Linked DNA regions of Homo sapiens: all the other regions are linked to region 5. The links come from fine-mapping of genetic effects on plasma protein levels. Region 5 holds a variant in brackets. A gene starts in each other region. All regions are shown on their reverse strands.

Region 1 (6,300 bases), not on the chromosome of region 5:
CCCCGCTCCCCCCCTACCCCATACACACACCAACTGTCTTCCATGAAAACAGTCTCTGGTGCCAAAAAGGTTGGGGATCGCTGCACTAGGGTATCAGATACTTATCCAGGTGCAGTGGGGACTAGAGTCAGAAATGCAAGAGTCTGCCTGGAGCATGTGTGTGTTTGTGTCCTGCATCATCTCTGCCCACCATAGTCAAATCTGCGATTCTCCGTGCATTGGCCGGGGGGGTGGTGCCTTTCTGTGTCCAAGAGTGTCTAGGGGCACATGGGTGTGTCTGTGGATGTGGTGTCTCCATGTGGCCGTGGTAGGTGGGTTGTGTACTCTGTGTGTGCACGTGGCTGTGTATAGCTGTGTGTGCATGTGCAGTATGTGCACGTCGGTGCTGTATCTAAGTGCACATGTGGCTACTGATCAACAGACATTTACTGAACGTCTACTGTGTTCCATGCTCTATTCTAAACCCTGGGGGCGCTGGGTGCAGTGGCTCATGCCTGTAATCCCAGCACTTTGGAAGGCCGAGGTGGGTGGATCACCTGAGGTCAGGAGTTTGAGACTAGCCTGGCCAACATGGTGAAACCCGCTCTCTACTAAAAATACAAATTAGCTGGGCATGGTGGTGGGCACCTGTAATCTCAGCTACTTGAGAGGCTAAGGCAGGAATATCACTTGAACCCAGGAGGCAGAGGTTGCAGTGAGCCGAGATTGTGCCACTGCACTCCAGCCTGGGCGCCAGAGTAAGACCTTGTCTCGAAAATAAAAATTAAAAAATAGGCCAGGCGCGGTGGCTCATGCATGTAATCCCAGCACTTTGGGAGGCTGAGGCGGGTGAATCGCTTGAGGCCAGGAGCTCAAGACCAACCTAGCCAACATGGTGAAACTCCTTCTCTACTAAAAATACAAAAATTAGCCAGGTATGGTGGCGAGCGCCTGTAGTCCCAGCTACGTGGGAGGCTGAGGCAGGAGAATCGCTTGAACCCAGGAGGCAGAGGTTGCGGTGAGCCGAGATTGCACCACTGCACTCCAGCCTGGGCAACAGAGCGAGACCCTGTCTCAAAAAAAAAAAAAGAAAGAAAGAAAGAAAAGAGAAGAGGGGAGAGGAGGGGAGGGGAGGGGAGGGGAGGGGAGGGGAGGGGAAGGGAAGGGAAGAAACGAAACCCTGGGGGGGATCTAGGAGCAGACAAGTCCCCTGCTCTGTGTTTTCATAATCTAGTATCCAGGAAGGGGTAAGCACCCTGCGTGTATCTGGTTGTAACTAACTACTCACAACTGCACTTGCCTGTGTGAAAACGTGAGCTTGTGATGATGCGTGACGTCAGGTAGGCGTCCCTGACTCTCCGTAACCCAACTTTGCCTGTGCCTTGGGGATTCCTCCTTGCAGGTAGGAAGTGAGGGGTACAGGTTCCAGCTCTGGGCTGAGACATGATTCAGGGTTCCACCCTGACCTGGGGCTCCTGGAGTCTTGGGGCCCTGGAGGGTCCCGTCCACTGCCCAGACTGACCCAGGTCCTCGATGAAGCCTCATTATGAGGACTGGGGGAAAAGGACCCAGCCACTTCCTGGGGAGGTCGGAGACCCCAGGGTGAGCGTCAAGGTAGCCTCAAAGATGAGACGTCACCTCTTGAAGGCAGCCATGAGCCTTGGGTGGGGACGTCACTAGAGGAAGTTCAGGCCCTATTTTCGGAGGAAGCAGTTGGAGACCCCATAGGAGGAAGGGCGATGGGGCAGTAGAAAGTCGCGGTGTCCCCGCCCCCTCCAGCAGCTACGCGCCCCACTCTCTTGGAGACGCTAGATCAGTCCCTCCGGGCCTACTAAAGAAACCACGCAGGGCTCAGATCCGCTCCATCATCATCATCATCATCATCATCATCATCTCCAGGTTTATTTCCAGCTCCCCCGCAACCCCTCCGGACCTGGAGCCGCCTCCGCCCGCGCTGTGCACGCGCTGCGCGCGACCTCAGGGCTGCACACGACAGCAGCGCGCTCCGGTCCAGTCCATGCCCGCGCACTGGCAGTGACATGTGGTCTCGGCGCGCACATCCCACGAGCCACAGGCGGAGCCACAAGTGCAGCCGGTGACGGCGAAGCCTGCAGCCCGGAACACAGGAGCGTGGACTCTGAGCTGGGAGGCTGAGGGTGGGAGCGGGAGGGGGGTGGGGAGCGCGGAGGGGGGTTGGGGGGGCGGGGGTGGGGACGGGGACGGCTGGAGGCTCCAACCACTGAATGGGCACTGGAGGCAGGGAGTGAGGGTGGACACCAGTGTCCAGATGGTGGGCGGAGAAGGCTGGGAGTCAGGACCAAGATCCTAGGGGAGTAGAGGCTGGACACGGGGAACGTGGCGGGGAGGGGGCATTCCCAGGGGACTTGGAACAGAAATGGGCGCCTGGACAACAGTCTCCTGCACTCACCTCGGGGGCAAGTAGCCAGGTCCCCCCTGGAGGTGACGCTCTGGCACTCCAGGCCAATGCTGCTTATTGCCCTAAATACTGGGGGGCAGGAGGAAAGGAGACAGGGGGAGCTGTGAGACCAAACGGTCCCTCCCCCATCCTCCCCTAGCCCTGTTGGTTTGGAGCTAGGTCCCTGTGGGCATAGGAGCTCACTGGCCTCCAGGACCCTGTCTTGAGTTGGGTGTTTTGGAGTAAGGGAAGGTTTGGAGTGAGAGCGGGGATTGGGTTTGGAGCCGTGGATAAGGTGGGGACAGTCGGAGGGGTTGGGAGTGGAGTTGGGGTTGAATTTATGATCTGGTTGGATTTGAGGATGAGATTTGGTGAGCGCTGGGGCTGGGTTGGAGTCAGGTCTGTGCCAGGGATCAGTGAGGTCTCTGAGACCCTTGGGGAGCTTGCCCAAGTGGGGGGTCCTCACTTAGGGAGCCGGCGACCTCCTGGATCCTCTCATTGATGGCTTCTTCCATGGAGCACAGGGTCTTGCTAGACACCAACAGCCCCAGGACAGGGAGGAGGAGGAGACAGAGAGCTTTCATCCTGCAGGCGCTGAAAGAGGGAACCAAGAGACCCACAGCTGGATCAGCCCTGCCCTGTGGGGAAGATCCGGCCCATGGAGGGAGTAGGATCTGCCCCTGGACCTGGACCCCTGTCCCCCCATGTGGGGGACAGGGATGGAGGCTCAGCCTTGACCCCAGCCTCCCCGCTGGTGCCATGGCAAGCGCAGGAGCAGCTGTCACTTACCCTCTCGGTGGGCTCAGCTAACCAAATCCGGCACACGAATTCCTGCACCGCAGCTCTTTCTTTGAGGCCTCTTGGGGTGGGGCTTCCTGGCTTGGCTAATAAGTCCCTGGGCCCCCAACCCTCCGGTCCCACATCCGGGGCCAAGAGGAAGCCCCTGAGCAGACAGTAAGGGCTGGAGGAGGAAGGGAGCCTTCCCACTTCCAACAGGGCCTCCGTCTTCATGTCCAGAGACTGGTCAGGAGGTGGTGCCCCAGGGATAATGCCAGGGGCTGTGGTCTGAGGAACAGGTAGACAAGCAGAGTTTTGCATGCAAGGGTGGCTGATGCAAACATGACAAAATTAATGCCTCTTGCTAGGCATGGTGCGGACAAGCACTTGTAGTCCCAGCTACTAAGGAGGCTGACGTGAGAGAATTGCTTGAGCCCGGGAGTTCGAAGCTACAGTGACTTATGATCACAGCACTGCACTCCAGTCTGGGCAACAGAGCAAGACCACTTCTCTAAAATAGTAATAATAATTATGTCTCTGGGTGAGAATGACATACCACATTCATACCCAAATGCCCATGAGCAATAGAACTGGTAAATAAAATCATGGTTTATGGCCGGTGGCTCACGCCTGTAATCCCAGCACTTTGGGAGGCCAAGGCGGGCGGATCACTTGAGGTCAGGAGCTTGAGACCAACCTGGCCAACATGATGAAACCCTGTCTCCATTAGACATACAAAAATTAACTGGGCGTGGTGGCGTGTGCCTGTAATCCCAGCTACTTGGGAGGCTGAGGTGGGAGAATCACTTGAACCCGGGATGTGGAGGTTGCAGTGCACTGAGATCGTGCCCCTGCACTCCATCCTGGATGACTAGCTTGGGCACCATAGCAAGACTCCATCTCAAAAAGAAGAAAGAAAAATCATGGTTTATTCCATCAATGGCATCACCTGCAACAGAAGTTGGAAAGCCATTGCTCATGGGCCAAGGTCCAGCTCATGTTTCTTCTTGGACCACCCATGAGCTTGGAATGGTTATTACATTTTTATTTGTTCTTTGTTTCCAGTACAACGGGCCTTTTTGTGGTAAAATACATATAACATACAACTTACCATTATAACTTACTTTTTTCTTTTTTGAGACGGAATCTTGCTCTGTCGCCCAGGCTGGAGTGCAGTGGCGCGATCTCGGCTCACTACAAGCTCCGCCTCCTGGGTTCACGCCATTCTCCTGCTTCAGCCTCCCAAGTAGCTGGGACTACAGGCGCCTGCCACCACGCCCAGCTAATTTTTTGTATTTTTTTTTTTTTAGTAGAGATGGAGTTTCACCGTGTTAGCCAGGATGGTCTCGATCCCCTGACCTTGTGATCTGCCCGCCTTGGCCTCCCAAAGTGCTGGGATTACAGGCGTGAACCACCGTGCCCGGCCTTTTTTTTTTTTTTTTTGAGACGGGGTCTTGCTATGTTGCCCAAGCTAGTGTCAGACTCCTGGCTTCAAGTAATCCTCCCACCTTGGACTCCCCAGTAGCTGAAGCTACAGGTATGCACCATCTTGTTCCATTTTAACCATTGCTTTTGTTTGTTTCTTTGTTTCAGAGTCTCACTCAGTTGCTCAGGCTGGAGTACAGTGGCTCAATCTTGGCTCACTGCAACCTCCACCTCCTGGGTTCAAGCAATTCTCCTGCCTCAGCCTCCCGAGTAGCTGGGATTACAGGCGTGCACCACCATGCCCGGCTAATTTTTTGTATTTTTAGTAGAGATGGGGTTTCACCATGTTGGCCAGGCTGGTCTCAAATTCCTGACCTCAAGTGATCCACCCGCCTCAGCCTCCCAAAGTGCCGGGATTACAGGTGTGAGCCACCATGCCCAGCCTATTTTAACCATTTTTCAGAGCACAATTCTGTGGCAATAAGCACATTCATGTTGTTATGTAGCCACCACTGCCGTCCATCTCCAGAACTTTCTCCTCTTTCCAAACTGAAACTCTGTCCCCATGAAACACTCACTCCCTATCCCTCTCCCCAGCCCCTGGCACCCTCCATCTTGCTTTCTGCCTCTATGGATCTGATGACTCTAGGGACCTCCTAGGAGTGGAATCACACAGTGTTTGTCCTTTTGTATCTGCTTATTTCACTGAGCATAATATCCCCAAGGTTCATCCCTGCTGTAGCCTGAGTCAGAACTGTTTTCCTTTCCATGGCTGTATCACATTCCCTTGTGTGGATGAACCACGTTGTGTTTATTCCTTCATCCATCGATGGACACTTGGGTTGCTTCCAGCTTTTGTTTTGTTTTTTTGTTTGTTTGTTTGTTTTTGTTAGTTCACGTCTTTTGTGGGTTTTCTTTCTTTTTTGAGATGGAGTCTCACTCTGTTGCCCTGGCTGGAGTGCAGTGGCACGATCTCGGCTCACTGCAAGCTCCGCCTCCCGGGTTCACTCCATTCTCCTGCCTCAGCCTCCCGAGTAGCTGGGACTATAGGCGCCCGCCACCATGCCCAGCTAATTTTTTTGTATTTTTAGTAGAGACGGGGTTTCACCATGTTAGCCAGGATGGTCTCGATCTCCTGACCTTGTGATCCGCCCGTCTCGGCCTCCCAAAGTGCTGGGATTACAGGTGTAAGCCACTGCGCCTGGCCGTCTTTTGTTAATTCATACAGTTATTTGTCTTCTGGTTTGTTGAAGCAGTAAGTCAGACAACATTTGCCACAATAATGTCTGTCAAAGTGGCTTGCCATAAACACTGCAGCACCACATTCATCAGAAGGGCAACCTCGACGAAGGTGACTAATTTTGCCATTCTCATCCACCTTATAATATTTCAGGACAGCCAGCTTCACCTTCTTTCTCTTGTGCTTATTCGTCTTGCAGGTAAGACTTCTTCTTCTGGCCGGGCTCAGTGGCTCAGGCCTGTAATCCCAGCACTTTGGGAGGCCGAGGCAGGTGGATCACGAGGTCAGGAGTTCAAGACCAGCCTGGCCAACATGGTGAAATCCTGTCTCTACTAAAAATACAAAAATTAGCTGGGCGTGGTGGCACGTGCCTGTAATCCCAGCTACTCGGGAGGCTGAGGCAGGAGAATTGCTTGAACTGGGACCCGGGAGGCAGAGGTTGCAGTGAGCCGAGATTGCACCA
Region 2 (6,300 bases), not on the chromosome of region 5:
CGTGGAAGACTTTTATGTACTCAGGAAATACCAGGCTTTGGAAGGGATAATAATACAAATGTTAATAATTCCATTTATTGAGTGTCACATGCCAAGCATCGCACTAATAGTTTAATTATGTATTCAGTACATTTTTATACACAAATTATGCTTTTCAGTCATTAAAACCAACGTATGATATGAAAATTCACATTTCAGAGAAGAGAAAACTGAAGCTCAGAAAGGATTTCTCAGACCTGGCAATTTCCAAAGACTGTAATCAGTAAACTATAGGTAGTTGGTAATAATGGGGAAGTAAAAGTCATAAAAAGCTGGGTCAAGAGTTCAGCTGTAAGGCAGGGATCCCAGTTGCCCTTGTAATAACTAGTCAGTTTTGGGTGGTCAGTGTAGAAATCCCAGGAAGGCAGCATTCAGATGTTGTTGTATCTAAGATGAGAGAAGGGCTGACTAGGAAGAGATGGAAGCTGTGCTTTATTTATTCATATTATAGACAATCTGGTTACACTGTACTAGTCAAAGCATAGGAATAGAAGAATAATTTTAAAGAGTAAGAAAAGGAGCATTCCTAAAACAAAATGTAATGATTAATAGCAACAGTCGCTAAGAGACTCATTGATAAGTTTCAATAGAATAGTGGGAATAGATTAAAATGTATATACAGGAACAAACTATTTGCTCTTTTAAGATGGAACTTAGATATCCAAATAAGAGCTGGAAGACACTCACTGCTAAAATTGGGAGACATGGATCATGAAGGGCCAGCAATGACCTTGGGACACGTAAATACAGAAAAGACAACCTAATCATGGGAAATGAGAGAACAAAGGTGACTAGAAACAGCCATTTTGGACACTTAAGGTCAGATTGAAGTCAGTCTGTCAGTCCAACGTGTGTATGGTATTTTGTGACCCAAAAAGACCACATATACTTATTTAGCTTAATAATAAATGTACCAATATTTGACAAGCAAAATGCCTTCTACATCATGGTGCATCTAGTGGTCATTTAGTCATAACTCAGTAAAAAGTTAGAGAAAAACTATCAAGTTTGAATAATGAGGCAAAAATATTTTTCCTTTTTATACTGTTTTGTGTCTACTTATGGTAATTTCTCACAGAACTGCCTATAGCTTAGTAAGTCAAACCATGTCCTAAAACTCAAGTGCAATCCCACAGCTTACAAATATTAGGGGTAGGTTTGTCTAGATACAGAAGAAAAGTGCATAAAGTGGGAGAGAATTAACACTGGAAATACTTACTACATGGCAGGCAGCTTACATATATTATGTATCACAATTAAATACAATTAATATTATTCCCATTTATGATAAATATGAAAATTTACAATCAGAATAATAATTTCCTAATAAAGTAGGTGCTGTGGCTCATGCCTGTAAGTCCAGAACTTTGGGAGGCCAAGACAGGAGGATTGCTTGAAGCCAGAAATTCGACACTAGCTGGGCAACATAGCAAGACTCTGTCTCTACAAAAAAATTTAAAAAATTAGCTGTGTATAGTAGTGCACACCATGGTCTCAGCTCCTTGGGAAGCTGAAATAGGAGATCCCTTGAGCCCAGAAATTCAAGGCTACAATGAGTTCTGATCTAACCACTGCACTCCAGTTTGGATGATAGAGTGAGATCCTGCTTCAAATAAAATAAAATATGATATAAAATAAAATAATAAAATATAAAAATTTCCCAATACACATTGGTATAGAAATTTAGCCCATTTCCATTAAAACAGAAATATCAAGCTTTTAACAACATTCTACACCACTAAGTAGAGAAGAGAATGGGCTGTGGATGCTTCTGGGTCTGGTCCTTCCCCACAAAATACATTTTGCCACAGAAAGAGGATTGTGTAGAAGGTTGTTCCATGGTGATTTTTTCCACATAGCTGATTTGGTTTATTGAGAGCTTCCACTTCACATGTTCATAAAGTAAACAGATTCTAGGAGTTACTTGGAGACATGGCAGCAAATGGTTAACCATTTTTTAATGGTAAAATCTGACCTGAGTTTCTGAGTTCTCAACTCTCTTATAACAGACATTTAGAAGTATCCAATTCTTGAACTCAAAATTAACTATAATTTTAAAATGTGCCTATTGTGTAGACATTGATCTGTGATTATACATTTTGTCACATTGATCAATAAAGCTAAATATAAAAATGAAAATGAACAGAAACTATTGAATTATGCACCACAAGGTGCAATCTATATGCCAATATGAGCATGCAGAAATGTCTGCGTGCTATGTATATGCTACTTGTGATTTATTAATTTATACTTCTTTATTTATATAAACTCAATATTTAAGATTATTGTATTTTAGAATCAGAGGAAATCTGAAATTGTTAGTCCACCCCACTTCATTATTGTGCTATGGAAACAAGCCTGGAATGATTGACATCTTCCATAGATGAACAGAACCAAATAATGATAATTTAGCTTGGAGATCAATATTATCTTTAATTTTATACAACCAGAAAATACAAGTAAATACAGCACATCTTTGAATATAGAAATACCAATGAGTTATGGTGTGTTTGGCCATTGAGTTCTGAAAGTCACTGTGGCCTTGTATTTACAAACATTAAAGATAAAATTATTATCCAAAACAGTAATGTCCAATAGATTATTAATAAACATTTTAGATAGCTGTAAAAAACATTGTGTTCTCTAGAGTTCATAAAAATTATGAGCTTAATTTCAATCCAACAGAAATAATTCTGAAAACTCTAATGTTGTGATGCTAATAATTGGGCTAAGAATTTTCAAACTATTGACTGGCAAAAACATGGATAAATTGTAATATATGAACTTCAAAGAATAAATGCACAATTACAAAACTTGATATAGCAATTTATTTTTAAAAGCCATTTGAGGAATCACCAAATAATTTCAAAATCATGACTAGAAAACCAGCAATGAAATTTGAGACTACTGGTATGACAAATCCTGTTTCAGGCCTTGTTGATCTAGAGTTACTTGCACAACCAGAATTTGCCAAAACAGGAAATAGGTGTTTCATATATACGGCTCTAACCTTCTCTCTCTGCACCTTCCTTCTGTCAATAGATGAAACAAATACTTCATCCTGCTCTGGAAACCACTGGTAAGTGATAACTCCTTTATTTCAAGGTGAACATTATTTATTTCAAGGTGAACAACACATTTATACCTTATCAATGATAAAGTGATATATTCGTATATTTTATCTACAATTTTCCAAAGTTTATTGATAACTTTTAATGAGAGTAATTATCTTAATATATTCATTTTAAGCTGAGAAGCTAATACATAGACAGCTTTATTATTCCAAAAGCACTTTTATCCAGTTTGAAATTTAAATAAATTTTTACCTTTCATTCTAAAGTAATATAACTAATTCCCATGTCTATGACTTGTGGAAACAATTGTACTAGAACTATTTTTAATAGAAAAATGAAAAACTATGAATATATGTGTGTGCATACTTTCACATCAGTAACTTTTACTAATATTAAAACATACAGCTATATGGGATGCCATAGCAAAAGTTTTAAATTGGTCAAAACAAAATTATAGCACTGATCTCAAGATTAAAAAGTATTTTATTAAAGACCATCAACATAAAATGCAATTTACCTCATGAAATGCACTCAGATCAAAAACAAAAAAAAAAGGCTTTTAGAAGTTTTTCAGTCAAAAGTCAGTCTACTCAGTCATGTTTATGTAGGTAATTTAAATATAATATCTATCGTGCATATTTCATCTAAGGAAGCAATTTCCACATACGGCTTTATCTTCCGTAGCATATTAGAAGTGATTCTGAAGAGTCAGATAGTAGGAGACCACAGAACTACCTAATGACAACATGAAAGGGGTTATTTACCACTAGACAGAAGATTTTAAAGTAAAATGCTTTTCTTCCCTGTGGCTAAATGCTATCCAGGAAACTCTGGGAGTATTTGCAATAGCCATAGAAGATCCGGTGTTGCCTCTTCTGCTAGTTAAAACCAAATCTAGAATGTCTGCCTGTATGACTAAGACCTCTGAAAGTGGATCAAAAGAAATTAAATTGATGACAAGTTTCAAGCCTGGGAGTTACCCTACATTGATAAGTTATGAGGTAAATTGGGGCTTCTGATTTGTAACAGGCAGGGATGAATTGGGAGGAAGAGTGTCAGAATTCTCAAGTAATGTAAATCTGATAATTGCTATGAATTTCAGTTACGTTATTTATTGAATTCAAGTAAAAGGGAGGGAATTCATCCTTGAAAAAAAAGTGCTTCTCAAGAAATGCAAGACAGCTATTCTTATTTGGATATCTTTACGAATTTCTTACTTGATGAAGTCTAGCAGTTTTGCAAACTTTGCATATTGGCATAGGCTGCTTTCTGTATCACAGATACATAATAAGATGAAAGAAAGTGATCAGAATAAAGATTAACTATTAAATTTTAAGTAAGAAAATATTGCATCAAATACTTTTCTGTGCTGTGACTAGTTTATAAATGTGTCTATACCTATAGTGCACACATTATACTCACATGTGTTAATGCTTTTGACATCTTTTCTAATCCACGTAATCCTTTAAAATATTTCTATAGTCTGTTCTTCCTCCTTTGCTTTTTAATGTTACGATGTTTGGTCTGTCTCTTAAGTTTTGTATTTTCCTCCACCAGTTGATTTATCTGTTCCTACAATAATATTAAATTTTTGTCAACAAATGTTTGAAGTCTATCTTAATAACTAATATGAAAAGATAACCCAATTAATTCTTTCTTTTTTTTCTTTTTCTTTTCTTCTTCCTTTTTTTTTTTTTTTTTTTTGAGATGGAGTCTTGCTCTGTCGCCCAGGCTGGAGTGCAGTGGCACACTCTCGGCTCGCTGCAACCTCCACCTCCTAGTTTCAAGCAATTCTCCTGCCTCAGCCTCCCCAGTAGCTGGGATTACAGACATGCACCACCATGCCCGGCTAACTTTTGTAGTTTTAGTAGAGACGAGGTTTCACCATGTTACGCAGGGTGGTCTCAAACTCCTGAGCTCAGGCAACCCACCCTCCTTGGCCTCCCAAAGTGCTAGGATTACAGGCATGAGCCACTGCGCCCAAGCAATTCTTCTTTTAAAAGTTTACTCAGTTATTCATAAGCCACTTAAAATTTGTATTGGAATTAAAGTAAACAATTATCAGGTTAGTTTAGGATTGATATCTTTATGCTAACATGTACCATTTAAAAGCATTACAAAACTCTCAATTTATTCAGAACTTCTGCTATGTTCTTTATTAAAGTTTTAAGATTTTTTCCAAAAAGGATTTTTAAATTTGTTTTGTTGTTTCCCAGATACTGTATAGTTTTTTTAACTGTTATAAGTGTTTCTTAAATCTTATATTCTAGTTGAGTGTTTCCAGTAATAGAAATGGTATTTTTGTAAGTTGATAGTGCATCTAGCAAAATTGTTAATTTTGGTGTGTTCTCCAGATAGATGATCTTATCATTTGAAAACAATAACAATTTTACGTCTTCTCTTACAAAAGTTACAAATATTTTATATATAATAATATATTTTATATTATTATATATAACATAAAATGTATACATTACATTACTTGTATATATTATATATATATATATGTATATACTTTCTTTTCTTATGGCTTTGATTAGGATCTCTCCAGTACTGTGTTAAATAAAAGTGTTAGTCATTCTTTTCTTGTTCCCAATATTAAATGAAATGCACCTAGAATTTCTCCAATAACCATTATATTGGGTATAGATTTGCAGTATATGCTTCCTACCAAAGTAATGATCTCTTCTATTTTTTCTTTAAAAAAAAAAAAAAAAAAAAAAACTACATACAGGGGTTGAATTTAATGACGTATTTTTTGTCATATTACTTTGCTTTAGTCTGTTAATGTGATGAATTTTACCAATGAATTTTCTAATTTTGAATTATTCTTGCAGTCCTCATATAATTTTACTTGGTCATGATATTTTTAATATATTTTTGAAATTGATGAGTTAATATTTTGTTAGGATTCTTGCAATTCATTTATGAAGTGGGCTTATGTATTATTTACTATTATTCTTACGTCTTTTATGAGTCAATCCCGGAATTATATCCACTCCTCAGATTACATTTCAGGAAAAAACAGCATTGGGAGGAAGTAGTCAAGCTAATTTGAACCATACAACACTAGGGAGTAAGAAGGCGTGAGTATAAGAGCACTGGAGAGTGCTATCACACATGACCTTATTATCATTGGTTCTTCACACAGGATGGTACTTTCGTTTTTTGTTTTTTTTTTTTTGGT
Region 3 (6,300 bases), not on the chromosome of region 5:
CTTGCCTGCCTCACACATCTCTGAGCCCCTAGATGGATGACTCCGAGCTGGCAGTGGGAACTTCTGACCCTGCTTTCCGAGGAGCCACGGGCAGGGGAGGTGGGAGGGACTGAGGAGCTGAGGAGGAGAAGGTTTGGGCAGATAGTGGACTGGGGACTGGTGGGGGTACCCCAAAGCCACACAGGAGTCTTTGGCTGCAGGCAGGCCTCACACCTGTGGTGCGGTCGCTGCCCCCCCTGCTTGCCACAGCTCCCCACCCTCCTGGGCTGTGAGCTTAGCGCTCTTCAGCCCAAGGCTGCCACAAGCAGGAAGTGACCAGCTGGGGCGAGTGCAGAGACCGAGTCTGAGGAGAGAAGCTCTGACCCCAGTGGTCACCTTGAACTTGGCTTCCACTTTGTGGGCAACTTGATGGATGGGCTCAAGTTTATGGAAGATGGTAAATGACAAGCCTGGTGCAGATGCTCAGCACTCCCTGGCTTCATCTTGTCTGGCTGTGTCTGGCCTGTTAAGCCCACCCAGACCCCATGCCCTCTCCTTTCCGGGTTCCCATGGTCCCTGTGCCTCTGTCTTCCCTGCCAGGCTTTGGCTGCTCGAGTGCAGATTCCATGTCTGCCTTGTTCCCTGCTGTGTCCCCAGCACTTAGCCCAGCGTCTGCACAGAGTAGGTGCTCAGATAAATATGTGCTAACGGAATGAATGTCAGACGAACTTGAGAACTTTCCTCCTCCTCCCTGGACCTCCTCCCCAGACCTCCTCCCCGACCTCCCTCTGGCCTCTCCCACCCTTCAGCCACCTCCCCAGCCCCTGGCCAGGCACCAGCTGGACTCAAGAAGGAGGAAGGACGTGACTGGAGGCAAACACTTTATTATCCTGAAGTTCAGTTACAATGTGACAGTGGAGGGGACACTGGTGAGTGGGGGGTGAAGAGGTGGAGGGTGACAGTGGAGCTTCCTTTCACACACAGGCCTGACATGATTCCTCCTGTCTGCTCCCTCCCACATCCCCAGTCCCCGTCCAGCAAGGCAAATGTCCAGGCACCTGCCTGGCCCTAAAAAGAGTCACAGTCCTGACCCTCGTGGGGGCAGGGCAGGTGTCCCGAGGCCACCCAGAAAAACAGGAGACGCGTCGGTGATGTTCGGGAGTCAAACCATGTCCCAAAAGTCTTAAGAAGAAAAACGAGATTCCCCAGCAAATTCGTGGGACCCCAGGGCCATGCCTCCCAGCTCTGGCCACCTCTGCTTGTCCAGGGGCCTCACAGCCAAGGGGATGCAGGGGCCGCTGTGCAGTCGGCTGAGGCCAGAGTGAGGGGTGCAAGGACCCAGATGGGGAACACTGCTGTTTAAATATTAAACAGGGATTTCTTGTCTCCCACGTGGGAGACCTGATACTCTCAAGGGTCCCAGGTGGGGACCCTCAGGACCAGGGGCTCACAGCGGCTCATCCCAGTGCCCATTGCAGAGCCAGGGCTGGGGAGCAGTCATAGTAATAAATACTTGGTATTTACCTATCTACCTCCCAGTCCAGGGGATGGGAGGACAGGAGCTTTTTCTCACTGCTACAGGCAGGAGAATGAAACTCAGAAATGCAGGGAAGGACACAGAGGCCTGGGGCTCCGTTCTGCTCTTCCCTGTCTTTAAATATGAGGCTTAAATAGACATAAATATTAAATAGAGATAAATACATGGGATGGGGAGGGCTTGGCTCAGGGCTGGGCAAGGTGGCGTAGAACGCGGTACGACACCTCCAGGAAGCTCTGCAGATGGGAGGCAACCAGGACCCCTCCTGCCCGGCGCTGGAAAGCAGAGGCGAAGGCCGGCATGGCACCCTGGGTGGGCTGCAGGGCAGGGGCCATTCCCAGTTCTTCCATCTGTGGGGGAAAGCTGTGATCAGTGGTTGGGCCCTTCTGAGTGGGCGTTATTACAAATGAGGAAATGCTGGGGGTGACAGCATGGACAGGGCCCATACACAGGCCTGGCTGTGGTGCCCAGAATGCCAGCACGACCTTGGCCACCCTGCCCAACAAGGCTCACCTGCTGCCAGATGGTGGTGGCAAAGTCGGCGACGTCCAGCTGCAGTGTGTCCAAGGTGGGACCCAACTCGGGGGAGATCCCTTCCAGGGCCTGCAGGAGCCCCTGGTAGAGGAAAAGGCCGCTATGGAGTTGGCTCAAGCAGCCTGCCTGTGAGACAGAGCGGAAGAGTTAGGGGGTGCTGCCTGAGATACGTCAGGCCCCCAGCTTGGAACCTGGAGACATGGGGGAGCCCATGGGTGTTCCTCCTCTCCTTCCCCCTCCTCATTAGCCTTATCCTTTCCTGACACTCACCAGCTGCAGGGCCTGGCTGGGGCAGCTGCTCAGGGGAGCCCAGGGGATGCCCAGAGAGTGTCCGAGCAGCACCAGCTCCTCGGGGTGGCACAGCTTGTAGGTGGCACACTGGGGATGGAAGGATGCTGAGTGAGACTCGCCATGGCCGGGTCGCCGCTCCTTCCCGGGTCCTCCCCGACTCTCTGGTCTTTCCCCTCCCTCCATGTCCTGCCAGGCTGTTCAGTTCCTCTCTGCCCTGCACCCCCACTCTCTGATCTCACAGGGGCCCTTGCCCTTTCTCCTGAATGTAATGCCTCCACTCCCATCCCAGCCAGCCCTCCCGAGCACTGTCCCCACCAAGGTCCTCCTCCCCAAGTCCCTTCCCAGCCTTCCCCAGCTCCACTGCTCCTAATATTCTCCCACGTCCCTTCCAGAGGATGTTGGCCCTGCAGTTCCATCCCCCTTAGCTCTCCCCACCGGGCTTCCCTCCACAGCCCTCTCACCCACCTCACTCACCAGCTTCTCCTGGAGCGCTGCGCCATCGCCCTGGATCTTCCTCACTTGCTCTAAGCACTTGAGCAGGAAGCTCTGGGGCAGGGAGCTGGCAGGGCCCAGGGGGGTGGCTTCCTGCACTGTCCAGAGTGCACTGTGCCACAGCAGCAGCTGCAGGGCTGGGGACAGAGCGGGCTCAGGAGACATGCTGTTCCCTACCACCTGAGGCCCTCTCGGGGACACTGGGTGCCTTTAATCCCCATTCCCAGAACGGGGATCCCCAGCCCCTCTGTCACACCAGCCTCCCTCCCATGCCAGGGCAGGCGGCTCTCCCATCCTGGGCCAAGACACTCACCCATCAGCTTCATGGGGCTCTGGGTGGCAGGTCCAGCCATGGGTCTGGGTGGGGCTGGGCTGCAGGCTCCGGGCTGTTTTGGGGCCCAGCTCTAGGGGGGCCTTTATACATAACCCCATGGAGGCCTGGGAGGAAATTACCTGGGGCCACGACTAAGGCTTAGTAATAACTTCCCAGGATTTATGCAAATTTGGTGTCCAAGACAATGCAGGGGGGTTGGAACAAAAAGCTGTTTGCGAAAGTTTTGTGAAATTGTGGAATCTCTGATCCTCCTTTGACGTCGCCTTGCCCCCCTCAAACTCCCTTCCTCCCGCTGCCCCACCCAGGCCTGAATGGCCCCAGAGTGTTTGAACAGAACAGCTGAACAAAGGCTGAGCCGCTGATAGACGCCTGGAAGCGGCAGCAGCCTGTGGGGAAGTGGCAGCTGAGTCGGGGTCTCCCTCTCTGCTCTGGCAGACTTGCGGGGGCAGTGTCCTTTGCCCCTCTCCTTTGGGATTCTCAAGCCTGTCCCCCAAGCCCCCAAATTCTAAGAGAGAAAAAAAGAAGCTGGTTGCTCCCATTCCTACCCCCAAACTCTCCGGAGGCTGCCTGTCTGGGAGACCTCCTGAGCCCCTACCTGAGATAAGGACATTGGGTCTTGGCTGCTGTGCCCACCCCACACTTGGATAGGCACCATCGAAAGTTCCAGGCTGTCCTGTCCCAAGTTGATTAGCTGGGAACTCCCCCAGAAACCCCCCCGCCCCCCATGACTCATTCGGCTAAAGCCCCTAGAATCCCGGTAGAGCCAGAGGAAACCGGATGTCTGTCCCGAATGAGGCAAGACCCTTCGAGGCGATTGGCTCACCTGACCTTCACCTCCTCGTGCACGACCCTGACAGTAGGGTCCCCAAGGGCTTTGGAACTGCGGGATTGGGACACGTGACTTCCCTGGTCATTCACCTTGAAGTGGACACGGGCTGGGGTGAGAGAGGGGAAACTGCCCCATCTTCTCATCTTAGAACCATGCAGCGTTAATGCTGGAAGGGACCTTGGAGTCGATTCCAACCCCGTGAACTGGGCCAGGGAAGGAAGTGCCTTGCCCAAGGTCATGGTAAGTGACAGAATTACAGCCTGGGCCTCTGGCTCAGACCTGAACGTTTTCTTTTTCTTTTCCAGATGGAGTCTTGCTCTGTCGCCCAGGCTGGAGTGCAGTGGCGCGATCTCGGCTCACTGCAAACTCTGCCTCTCGGGTTCACGCCATTCTCCTGCCTCAGCCTCCCGAGTAGCTGGAACTACAGGTGCCCGCCACCATGCCCGGCCAATTTTTTGTATTTTTAGTAGAGACGGGGTTTCACCGTGTTAGCCAGGATGGTCACGATCTCCTGACCTCGTGATCCACCCGCCTCGGCCTCCCAAAGTGCTGGGATTACAGGCGTGAGCCACCGTGCCCGGCCTAGGCCTGAACGTTTTCTACAGGCCACAAGGCCTGCCTGGGGCAGTCTGACTGACCACACCCAAGACTGTCACCTTCTGTCCTAATTTACCCCAGCGTGCCAAGAAACAGACATCTCTGGATGAGAAGTGGATGTGGTGACTGGATGGGGCCATCTCTGGTGCTTGGGGGCCCCCTGGTGGTCACCAATGGCAGGGACGTCTGATCTCACACACTGATCTCACACACTGTTATCTGGTCCGCGGTCCTGCAGCTCCGCCTTAGCTCTGTGGCTCAGCACCTTGCACTGATGTGGCCCAGCTCTGTACCCAGCTCCCTGGGAGTAGAGGGTGGGTTTTTGTTGTTGTTTTTTTGAGATGGAGTTTCGCTCATTGCTCAGGCTGGAGTGCAATGGCACGATCTCGGCTCACTACAACCTCCGCCTCCCTGGTTCTAGTGATTTTCCTGCCTCAGCCTCCCAAGTAGGTGGGATTACAGGCATGCACCACCATGCTCATCTAATTTTGTATTTTTAGTAGAGGTGGGATTTCACCATGTTGGTGGTCAGGCTGGTCTCGAACTCCTGACCTCAGGTGATCCACCCGCCTCGGCCTCCCAAAGTGCTGGGATTATAGGCATGAGCCACTGCACCTGGCCTTGAGGGTGGGTTTTTAACAGGACCATGGAAGGCAGGAGCTCCACATTCTTAAACATGTTGCCTGGCAACTATTGCATTGCACACCTCTTATATGTCAGGCACTTTTTTTTTTTTTTTTTAAGACAGAGTTTGGCTCTTGTTGCCCAGGCTGGAGTGGGTGGAGTGCAATGGCACGATCTCGGCTCACTGCAACCGCCGCCTCCTGGGTTCAAGTGATTCTCCTGCCTCAGCCTCCTGAGTAGCTGGGATTACAGGCATGCTCCACCACTGCCCCCACAGCCGGCTAATTTTGTATTTTTAGAAGAGATGGGCTTTCTCCATGTTGGCCAGGCTGGTCTCACACTCCTGACCTTAGGTGACCCGCCCGCCTCGGCTTCCCAAAGTGCTGGGATTACAGGCATGAGCCACTGCGCCTAGCCATATCAGGCACCTCTTATTACACTTTTGTCAATTTTTTTGCGGAGGGGAAACAGGGTCTCAGTCTGTCCCCCAGCCTAGAGGGCTGTGGTACAATCACAGCTCACTGCAGTCTTCACCTCCCAGGCTCAAGCGATCCTCCCACTTTAGCCTCCCGCGTAGCTGGGACCACAGGCACGGACCACCATGCTCCGCCAATTTTTGTAATTTTTTTTTTTTTGCAGAGAGGGCATTTCATCATGTTGCCCAGGCTGATCTCAAACTCCTGGGCTTGTGTCCGAAACTGGTGAGTGCTTGGTCTCACTGACTTCAAGAAGGAAGCCGCGGACCCTCGCAGTGAGTGTTACAGCTCTTAAGGTGGTGCATCTGGAGTTTGTTCCTTCTGATGTTCAGATGTGTTCGCAGTTTCTTCCTTCTGGTGGGTTCGTGGTCTCGCTGGCTGAGGAGTGAAGCTGCAGACCTTCGCGGTGAGTGTTATAGCTCTTAAGGCAGCGCGGCCGGAGTTGTTCATTCCTCCCGGTGGGCTCGTGGTCTTAGTGGCTTCAGGAGTGAAGCTGCAGACCTTCGTGGTGAGTGTTACAGCTCATAAAAGCAGTGTGGACCCAAAAAGCGAGCAGTAGCAAGATTTATCGCAAACAGCAAAAGAACAAAGCTGCCATATTGTGGAT
Region 4 (5,000 bases), not on the chromosome of region 5:
AGCAGGGTTCTGTTGCTCTCAGTCCGGCCCAACCCGTGACAGCTCATCCCCCACTACCTGGAGGGGCCCTACCCCACCCAGCCGAGATGGGCCTGGGCCTTCTCCCTGAGCTGACACCAGGCTGTCCCTCCTGGCCTGCCTGGGGCCCCTGGACCCCACTCAGACCCTCCAGCACCCGATGTCCTTCTTTCCTTTGGCTGCCTCCCTGGGTGGCTTTCACCCCCCCCGCCACCCAACACACAGAAACCCTGCATTTCTCCCCTGCACTCAGCTTGCTGCTTCCCTTCCTATACCCTCTCCCGGGGATCCACCTCGGTACTTCCAGTCTGCTCCATGCCAGCCGTTCCCCTAGCTCTCGGGTCAAACCTGACCCCATCCTTGAGTCCTCCCACTTCCCATCCCCTGGCACCCCAGGGCTGAGCTCCCCAACCTGTCTGTATTCTGCTCCTTGCTCCACAAATGCCCCAATCCCAATCCACTCAGCTGCCAGAGTCAGAAACCCACTGGGGGCGGCTGATCCCTGGCTCCCTGCCTCTTCACCCTGCGCCTGTTCTCTCACACCTGTGACGGCCCCGCTTCACTTTCGCTGGTCTCCCGACCCCCTAGGCTGCACCCCACCAAGTCTCCCCACCCTGCGGCCCAAGAGCCCTGCTCTAAGCCACTCCGCAGCAGATCCGCTGGGGCGGGGCCTGAGGACCGTGCTAGGTGCTAGCGTGGCCACCTGCCCCTCCAGGCTGCTCAGCAGCTCTGCTCAGGGTGACCCTGCGATGGCTTGCTCCTTCCTGAAGGGGGGGCTCTCTCTGACTCCAGCCCCTGCCGGGAACACCCCACATTTCCTTTTGAAGCAGGTTGGCTCTTTTAAGGCCACCTCCCTGGAAGCCTTCCATGAAGGCACTGGGTGGGGTTCCAGGCTGGATCCAGTGTCCCCTCCTCCCGCTCCCAGGCACCCCTCCTCTCTCCGTCTTGTTTTCTAACGACTGTGCATGTCCATCCCCACCACTGTCTGTGTGTCTGCATGGAAATGTGCTATAAACGTTGCTCTAAGGAACAGAGGAAGGATGAACACAGATGAATTCCGGGCAGAACAGCGAGGTGAACGACAGGATCCCTCAGCTTTGGCCATCCCTTGCCTGTGACGTCAGTCTGACTCTCACACCCCCAGGAGATGTCGGCCCTCACCTAAACAGGACGGAGGTGACATTGTAGCTCTTGTCTTCTTTCAGCTCATAGATGGTGGCATACATCTTTTGCGGGTCTTTGTCTTCTCTGAGAATTGCATTCCCTGCCAGGCCTACCACATACCACTTCCCCTGGAACTGCAAGGGACTGATAAGAGGCACAACCCAGGAATGGCCCTAGGAGCCACCCCTCCAGCTCTGTCCCTGTGGCACCTCTGGGCCGCCCAGCTTGGAACCATGAGCCCCTCTAGCTGGGCAGCAGGGCCCAGGCTGGGCCTGCACTGGTGAAGGGGCAGGAGCAGGAGGCCATCAGTCCAGAAGGGAGTCCTGGGGGAAGAGGCGGTTCTGAGTCTGGCAGGGAGGAGGGTGACCTCCTCACTGGAGGAGGCATGTGGCTGGTGGGCCTTCCTGAGCCTCAGTTTCCTCATCTGTGCAGGGGGACTAAAAGTGCTCCCACCTTCTTTGGACAATGGGGGTTATGGGAGAGGGGATGTGGACCTGGGGGAGTCTGTTCAGGCTGAGAGGGGGTGGGGATGGGGGGAAGGGGCATGGTTTCCACCAGGGGACCCTGGTGGCACAGAGTGAGCTGAAACCTGGACCCTGGACTCCTAGAGTCCTGCCCAACGCTCTTCCTGAGTCTCTTCACCTCTCCTCCCCTCTGCTCCCACTCTTCCCCAGGCCCTGCCTGCAGGTGCCCCTCTTGGCCCCTTACTTGGTTGTCCTGGAAGTTCTGCTGCAGAGGGACCTTGCTCAGAGGTGGGGCTGGGATCAGGTCTGAGGTGGAGTCCTGGGCCTGGGCATGCAGAGCCCCCAACAGGGCTAGGCCCAGCCACAGGAGACCTAGGGGCATGATTTCAGGGCCGAGGAAGCAGGCGCTGTGGTGGCTGCTGGGCCTGGCAGGGGTGGAAGAGGAGGTGGCGAGTGAGAGGCTCACCTGGGTGGCCCTATTTATGGGATCTAGGGTGGGTTGATTCATTCTTTGCCAAGGCCAGGAATGTGAGGCAATTGCCAGCAACTCCTGCGGAAACACTTGGCAAGATTTCTGCACCTGGTCAGGATTGGGCAAGACAGAGGGACGGGGAGAGTGAGGGACATTCCCGGAGTGCTGCACCTCTGGCAGGGACAACGACTCCCTCTGTGCCTTCCTTGTGCTGTTTCTTTCTTCTGATTGCCCTGTATGTGGGCCGGTGGCCTGTGAGCCGGAAGAGCTGTCATCTCTGACCCCCCTGCTCAGCTGGATCCCAGGGTGGGGTATGTGCCCTGTGGTCCCCTCCCCACACCCACAGAAAGGAAAGAATGAATGCCTCCTTCCAACAGATCATGTGCTGTTTCCTGGTTCTTTTAAGGGTCAGGGAAGGGTGGGGTGGCTGACAGTGGACAAGGAAAAACAAGGCGTCTGCTCTGAACTCATGGAGCCCAGAATCATGGCCCTCCCAGGAGCCCCAGTCCAGGACCTGCATGTGCTCCAGGGGCCTTGAGACAGCCCCTTGCCCCTCTCCTTGCCCCATTTGCAGGAGGGGACCCCAGTGGACCCCTGAGGGACCCTTCCTCTCCTGTGAGTGCAGTGGGAAGAGACCCCACACAGGGCACATGGGTTGAGTGCTGAGGCTACAGTCCCTGTCCTGGGTGAGTTGGGCTGATGTGTGGGGGCGTGAAGGCGCCACACTGCTGCTCTGGACACCTGTTGCTTTGGGTCACTGACAGTGCAAGGATCTGGCCTTATCCTTGAGGTCACTGAGACCATCCCCCTGACTCTAGTCACAGCCTTTTTCCATTGAACCCAGCAGCCCAGGCCAGGGGTTCTGGAACTGTCACCGAGATGGCTGGTCCCAGCCTTGTCCAGCAGGGAAGCAGTTATCTCAACGGGGGCCTGGCTGGCATCCTCGGGAGGCAGCGATGGATCGTAGGCCCTGTGCAGTGTCCGCAGAGATGGCTCACCCATGAGGGCTGAGGCCGTCCTGGATGCCTGACCTGAGGCTGGACTGAGGGTTCGCTGGTTTTAGAGCTTTCAATGGGACTAACGGGGACCTCACTGGCTCTGCCTACGTGCTGCTTGGGATCCCCAATCTGGGCTTGGGGGCAGCAGGGCCTCAGGGAAGGGGCTCTGGGAGTCCTGAGCTGGGGTTAGTCTAGAGAGGCACCCACTGGATCCCTGCCCCCTCAGGCCCTGTCCTGCCTGCCCGATTGGATGATGAAAGGGCAGGAAGCAAAGATGAGTAAAACTGCAGGGGAACGATGTTGCACCAAAGCCTTCCCTTTCTAGAGGTAGCCAGTGGCTACTCGCTCCCTCCGAACCCCCTCTTCCCCTCATGACCCTGTTCCCAGGAACTCCACCTCTGCTACTGTCTTTGACCTTAAAAAGTATCCTCTGCCAGGCCGGGTGCGGTGGCTCACATCTGTAATCCCAGCATTTGGGAGGCTGAGGCGGGTGGATCACGAGGTCAGGAGTTCGAGACCAGTCTGGCCAACACGGTGAAACCCCATCTCTACTAAAAATACAAAAATTAGCAGGGCATGGTGGCAGGCGCCTGTAATCCCAGCTACTCGGGAGGCTGAGGCAGAAGAACAGCTTGAACCTGGGAGGCGGAGGTTGCAGTGAGCCGAGATCACGCCTTTGCACTTTAGCCTGGAACAGAGCGATATTCTGTCTTAAAAAAAAAAAAAAAAAGGTATCCTCGGCTGGGCGCAGTGGCTCTCGCCTGTAACTCCAGCACTTTGGGAGACTGAGGCGGGTGGATAACCTGAGGTCAGGTGTTCAAGACCAGCCTGACCAACATGGTGAAACCCTGTCTCTAGTAAAAATACAAAGATTAGTTGGGCATGGTGGCGCATGCCTGTAATCCCAACTACTCGGGAAGCTGAGGCAGAAGAATTGCTTGAACCTGGGAGGCGGAGGTTGCAGTGAGCCAAGGTTGCGCCATTGCACTCCAGCCTGGGCGACAGAGGGAGACTCCATCTCGGGGAAAAAAAAAATGTATCCTCAGGGACTAGCCTGGCCAATATGGCAAAACCCCGTCTCTACTAAAAATACAAAAATTAGCCAGGTGGGGTGATGCATGCCTATGATCCCAACTACTCAGGAGGCTGAGGCAGGAGAATGGCTTGAACCCGGGAGGCGGAGGCTGCAGTGAGCCAAGATCGCACCACTGCACTCCAGCCTGGGAGACAGAGTGAGACCCTGTCTGAAAAAAGAAAAAAAAAACCACGTATCCTCGGGGAGGCTGAGGTGGGAGGATCACTTGGGCCCAGGAAGCCGAGGCTGCAGTGAGCTATGATTGTGCCACTGCACTCCAGCCTGGATGATAGAGTGACCTAAATCTAAAAAGTACCCTCTAGTCTACGGTGACTGCTTCACGTAGCTGAGACCAGCGGGTGGAGCCCCAGAGAATTTGAAGTTGGGGGTGAGGCAGTGTCATGGATCTCTGAGGACCCAGGACTCCAGGGTATGAATGTGGTGGGTGAGCAGGGCACTGGGTCCACAGTGGGAAGACACCAGAGCCAGGTGCAGAAGGGGAGATAGTCCCGCTTGGGGGTCCCCCAGGCTGGCTTGAAGCCTGGCTCCTCCGCATGCATGCAGATCTCTGCCTAGCTCCCACACAAATCAGGCGCTCCTCTGTAGAGAGGGCAGCTCTGCGCTTCTGTGAGGTCATGCATGGACAGCACCGGGCCCCAGGGTGTCCCTACACAAGGCTGAGTTTCTGATCAAACCCATGCAGGGCTCATTCCTCTCTCTGCACCAGCTCCAGACCTGTCTCCTACCCACTGGCCTTGGCTCTCTTCAGAGTCTAGCAGGGCTGCAGGGAGGGGGTCAGCTCTACATAG
Region 5 (3,899 bases):
GCTATGGCAAGGCTGGGAAACTGCAGCCTGACTTGGGCTGCCCTGATCATCCTGCTGCTCCCCGGAAGTGAGTATGGCCAAGGATGAGGGTGCAGTGGGGAGGGGAAGCTACAAGGAGAGATATTGGGAATTTCCTTGCACTGCCACATGGCTCCTGGGATTCCCAGAGAATCCCACAAGATTCAAGTCTGAGCCACAGATGTGGGGTAGCTGGTCTCCCACCCACAGACTTCCACAGGCAAACCACCACCCAAGAGGAATGGTGAGACGACCCGGGCTGGTCATCCTGGAAAAGGCCAGTGAGGCGCAGATCTTGTCCGCAAATCTCTACCAAGCTGTCAGAAGCAACCCATGGGTCCTATGCAGCCTTGGTGGGCAGCAAAGGGATCAGGATGGAAGCTACAAGGGGACAGGTTTCATCCTGAAATAAAGAAGCCCAGGCAGAGCTTGGTTTCCAACCATGGAAACTCTGTCTTGAGAGGTAGAGAACTTCCCATCCCCAGGGGTATGCAAGCTAAAGCCAGGATTGATAAAGATGCTGTGCAGCAGGGGTTGGCAAACTTTTTCTGACAGTAATGTTTAGGCTTTGCAGGCCACATACTGTCTCTGTTCCTTGTTTGTTTGTTTGTTTGTTTGTTTGTTCGTTTGTGAGACAGGGTCTCCCTCTGTTGCCCAGGCTGGAGTGCAGTGGCACAATCGCAGCTCACTGCAGCCTCAACCTCCTGGGCTCAAGTGATCCTCCCGCCTCAGCCTCCAAGGTAGTGCAGGGCATGCCACCACACCCAGCTAATTTTTTTTTGTTGTTGTATTTTTTTGTAGAGATGTAGTTTTGCCATGTTGCCCAGGCTGGTCTCAAACTCCTGGGTTCCAGCAATCCACCTGCCCTGACCTCCCAAAGTATGGGGATTACAAGCATGACCCGCCACGCCCTGCCTATTGCATGTTTTTTGGTTTTTGTTTTTTTGTTTTTTGAGATGGAGTCTCACTCTCTTGCCCAGGCTGAAGTACAGTAGCGGGATCTCAGCTCACTGCAACCTCCGCCTGCCGGGTTCAAGCGATTCTCCTGCCTCAGCCTCCCGAATAGCTGGGATTACAGGCACCTGCCACCAGGCCCTGCAAATTTTTGTATTTTTACTAGAGATGGGGTTTCACCATGTTGGCCAGGCTGGTCTCAAACTCCTGAC[G/C]TCAGGTGATCCACTCACCTCGGCCTCCCAAAGTGCTGGGATTACAGGCATGAACCACCGCGCCCAGCCCTGTGGCATGTTTTTATTTGGTTTTTGCTTTGCTTGTTTTTAACTCTTTTAAAATGTAAGAAACATCTTTAGTTGTTAGGCTATACAAAAATAGGCCACTCAAGCCCTGCTGTAGAGGGCAGAGCATCAGGTAGAGTTTTGAAGCAAACAACCTTGTAAAGTTTCTTCCAGCCTGAAATCCTGAGTCTGGGCCGGGCGCGGTGGCTCACGCCTGTAATCCCAGCACTTTGGGAGGCCTAGGCGGGTGGATCACAAGGTCAGGAGATCGAGACCATCCTGGTGAACACAGTGAAACCCTGTATCTACTAAAAATACAAAAAATTAGCCGGGCATGGTGCCGGGTGCCTGTAGTCCTAGCTACTCGGGAGGCTGAGGCAGGACAATGGCGTGAGCCCAGCAGGCGGCGCTTGCAGTAAGCCGAGATCACGCCACTGCACTCCAGCCTGGGCAGCAGAGTGACTCCGTCTCAAAAAAAAAAAAGAAATCCTGAGCCTGTGAAGCAGTAGAAGCCCTTTGTTGAGAATCATGAACTTGCTCTGTGACCCTGGGCAAACTGCTTCTCCTCTTAGGGCCTTCGCATCCCCATCAGTAAAACGGGCCTAAGAACACCTGAGAGAGGACAGAAAGCATTGCGGGCAAAGTGTATGTTGATTTGTTTGTTTATTTATTTATCAAAAAAAATTCATCGGCCGGGCGCAGTGGCTCATGCCTGTCATCCTAGCACTTTGGGAGGCTGAGGCGGGTGGATCACGAGGTCAGGAGATCGAGACCAGCCTGCCAGCATGGTGAAAACCCATCTCTACTAAAAATACAAAAAAAAATTAGCCGGGCATGGTGGTGCGTGCCTGTAGCCCCAGCTTTTCGGGAGGCTGAGGCAGGAGAATCGCTTGAACCTGGGAGGCGGAGGTTGCAGTGAGCCGAGATTGTGCCACAGCACTCCAGCCTGGGTGACAGAGCGAAACTCCTTCTCAAAATAATAATAATAATAAATATTCACCAAGGTCCTACTCTGTACTAGGCACTGGGAATACAGTAATAAGCAAACAGCCAAGGTCTGCTGGCCTCACAGAATTTATAGTCTAGCTGGAGTGATAGATAAGTAAATAATCATAAGACTCTATAATTATGAAGGATAATAAGAGCTTTGAGGAAGTACAGGGACCTTGGCCTCCTCCAGTTCGTTAGTGCCTGGTCTGGTTTCTTCAAGATGCCTAAGCGTTAACCAGGTGAAACAGGGGTGGGAGAGAGAAAGAAGAGTCCCTCCAAAAAGAACAGCATGCCGGGCACAGTGGTTCACATCTGTAGTCCCAGCACTTTGGGAGGCTGAAGCAGGAGGATTGCTTGAGCCCAGGAGCTCAAGATTAGCCTAGGCAACATAGTGAAACCCCATCTCTACCAAAAAAAAAAAAAATCAAAAAATTAGCAAGGTGTGCTGGCATGAACCTGTAGTCCCAGCTACTCAGGAGGCTGAGGTGGGAAGATCACTTGAGCCTAGGAGGTCAAGGGTGCACTGAGCCGTGATCGTGCCACTGCACTCCAGCCTGAGTGACAGAGCAAGAACTTGAAGAAAAAAAAGAAAAGAAAAAGAAAACCAAAACAAAACAACAACAACAAAAAAAAAAAAACAGCAGGGACAAAGATCCAGAGATTAGAAAGATTTTGGAGTTTTCAAAGAATAGCAAGAATGAGCCAGAATAGCTGGAGCTGAGAGACCGGTATAAGCTGGAACTGAGAGGGTCAGGCAGGGGCCAGGCCACAGGAGCTATTGAAGGATTTGAGTGTTTATCCTAATGATGGCAGCAAATACTCACATGCCAGACACTGCTCTAAATGCCTTCCATATGTTATCGCATGTAATCCTTCCAGCAACACTAAGGTAGGGACGATTTTTATCCCCATTTTACAGATGAGAAAACTGAGGCACAGGAAGTCTTAGAAATATACCAGGATCATGTAATTAATAAGCAATAGAACCAGAATTTAAACCTAGGCAGTCTAGTTCCAACATCCACACTCATCCATCACACCACACTGCCTTTCAGAGCAATAATGTGCCATTGAAGTGCTGCGATGGAGATGGGGTAGCAGAATCAGATTTGAATTGTGAAAAGATTGCTGTGGCTATGGGTTCTTATCACTCTAATCACTGCTTGCACCATCCTTGGGGAGGGCACTGGGGAGTTAACAGTCTCCATCTGGTGGTGTGCTGGTGCTGGCTTGCAAAAACTAATTGTGCACATCTCTTCCCAACTCCCCGATCAATGATGTCACATCAATAGGCTGAAATCAGCTACAGTGAGAGCACTTACACCGCGGAAAGGCACACACTACAAACCAGGGTCTGCTTTTCTCTGCCAAGCTGGCTGATAAACGGTTACCAGCACATCACTATCTCTGTGTCACCCCCGTAGCCTCTCGAAGTCTCCGTCCCCATCCTTCCATTTCCAGCCCCCATATCTTGAAGGGTGAGACAGGAAGGTGAGGCCTCTGAGTCTAGGAGTACAAAGGCCTAGATTATAGCCCAGCTCTGCTAGGCAGAGGCGTCGTTCCTGGCCCATTCTCTTCCACCCCAGGTCTGGAGGAGTGCGGGCACATCAGTGTCTCAGCCCCCATCGTCCACCTGGGGGATCCCATCACAGCCTCCTG

Direction of the effects. Alleles are on the strand shown, and positions count from the first base shown. The strength of an association depends on the size of the effect and on how common the allele is.
For the plasma level of the protein whose gene starts at base 3,257 in region 1, allele C in region 5 goes with a lower level than allele G (weak association).
For the plasma level of the protein whose gene starts at base 3,061 in region 2, allele G in region 5 goes with a higher level than allele C (moderate association).
In carriers of allele G in region 5, the plasma level of the protein whose gene starts at base 3,221 in region 3 tends to be higher than with C alone (moderate association).
As copies of G replace C in region 5, the plasma level of the protein whose gene starts at base 2,101 in region 4 goes up (weak association).

What was found. PIP is the chance, under the fine-mapping model, that this variant and not a neighbour inherited with it causes the effect. Protein levels are from antibody-based Olink assays in UK Biobank. Linkage for the fine-mapping came from a reference panel and not from the study's own genotypes, which makes the PIPs less certain.
Region 1: it holds the start of RETN, and the variant in region 5 is fine-mapped to the plasma level of the RETN protein (UK Biobank, PIP above 0.99).
Region 2: CRISP3 starts here. The variant in region 5 is fine-mapped to the plasma level of the CRISP3 protein (UK Biobank, PIP above 0.99).
Region 3: it holds the start of CSF3, and the variant in region 5 is fine-mapped to the plasma level of the CSF3 protein (UK Biobank, PIP above 0.99).
Region 4: LCN2 starts here. The variant in region 5 is fine-mapped to the plasma level of the LCN2 protein (UK Biobank, PIP above 0.99).

The regions. Positions count from the first base shown.
Region 1 is chr19:7,666,006-7,672,305 of GRCh38, reverse strand. RETN (resistin) reads right to left here and starts at 3,257. Exons shown (of 4, transcript NM_020415.4): 1 at 3,185-3,257; 2 at 2,862-2,989; 3 at 2,408-2,485; 4 at 1,851-2,087. The coding sequence starts at 2,979. The coding sequence ends at 1,957. It also overlaps the pseudogene RPS27AP19.
Region 2 is chr6:49,741,149-49,747,448 of GRCh38, reverse strand. CRISP3 (cysteine rich secretory protein 3) reads left to right here and starts at 3,061. Exons shown (of 8, transcript NM_006061.4): 1 at 3,061-3,118. The coding sequence starts at 3,082.
Region 3 is chr17:40,012,361-40,018,660 of GRCh38, reverse strand. It overlaps CSF3 (colony stimulating factor 3), which reads right to left and starts at 3,221. Exons shown (of 5, transcript NM_172219.3): 1 at 3,147-3,221; 2 at 2,816-2,970; 3 at 2,321-2,428; 4 at 2,030-2,176; 5 at 848-1,866. The coding sequence starts at 3,186. The coding sequence ends at 1,702. PSMD3-AS1 (PSMD3 antisense RNA 1) reads left to right here and starts at 4,020. Exons shown (of 3, transcript NR_198981.1): 1 at 4,020-4,107; 2 at 4,302-4,423; 3 at 5,857-6,300. RefSeq lists an enhancer at 2,812-3,311.
Region 4 is chr9:128,146,554-128,151,553 of GRCh38, reverse strand. LCN2 (lipocalin 2) reads right to left here and starts at 2,101. Exons shown (of 7, transcript NM_005564.5): 1 at 1,891-2,101; 2 at 1,180-1,316. The coding sequence starts at 2,028. RefSeq lists a silencer at 702-751 and an enhancer at 4,881-5,000.
Region 5 is chr1:36,475,601-36,479,499 of GRCh38, reverse strand. CSF3R (colony stimulating factor 3 receptor) reads left to right here. Exons shown (of 17, transcript NM_000760.4): 3 at 1-67; 4 at 3,827-3,899. The coding sequence starts at 4. Among named protein-coding and RNA genes, the nearest start is that of CSF3R, 5.4 kb to the left of the region's middle. The variant G/C (reference allele first, on the strand shown) is at 1,185.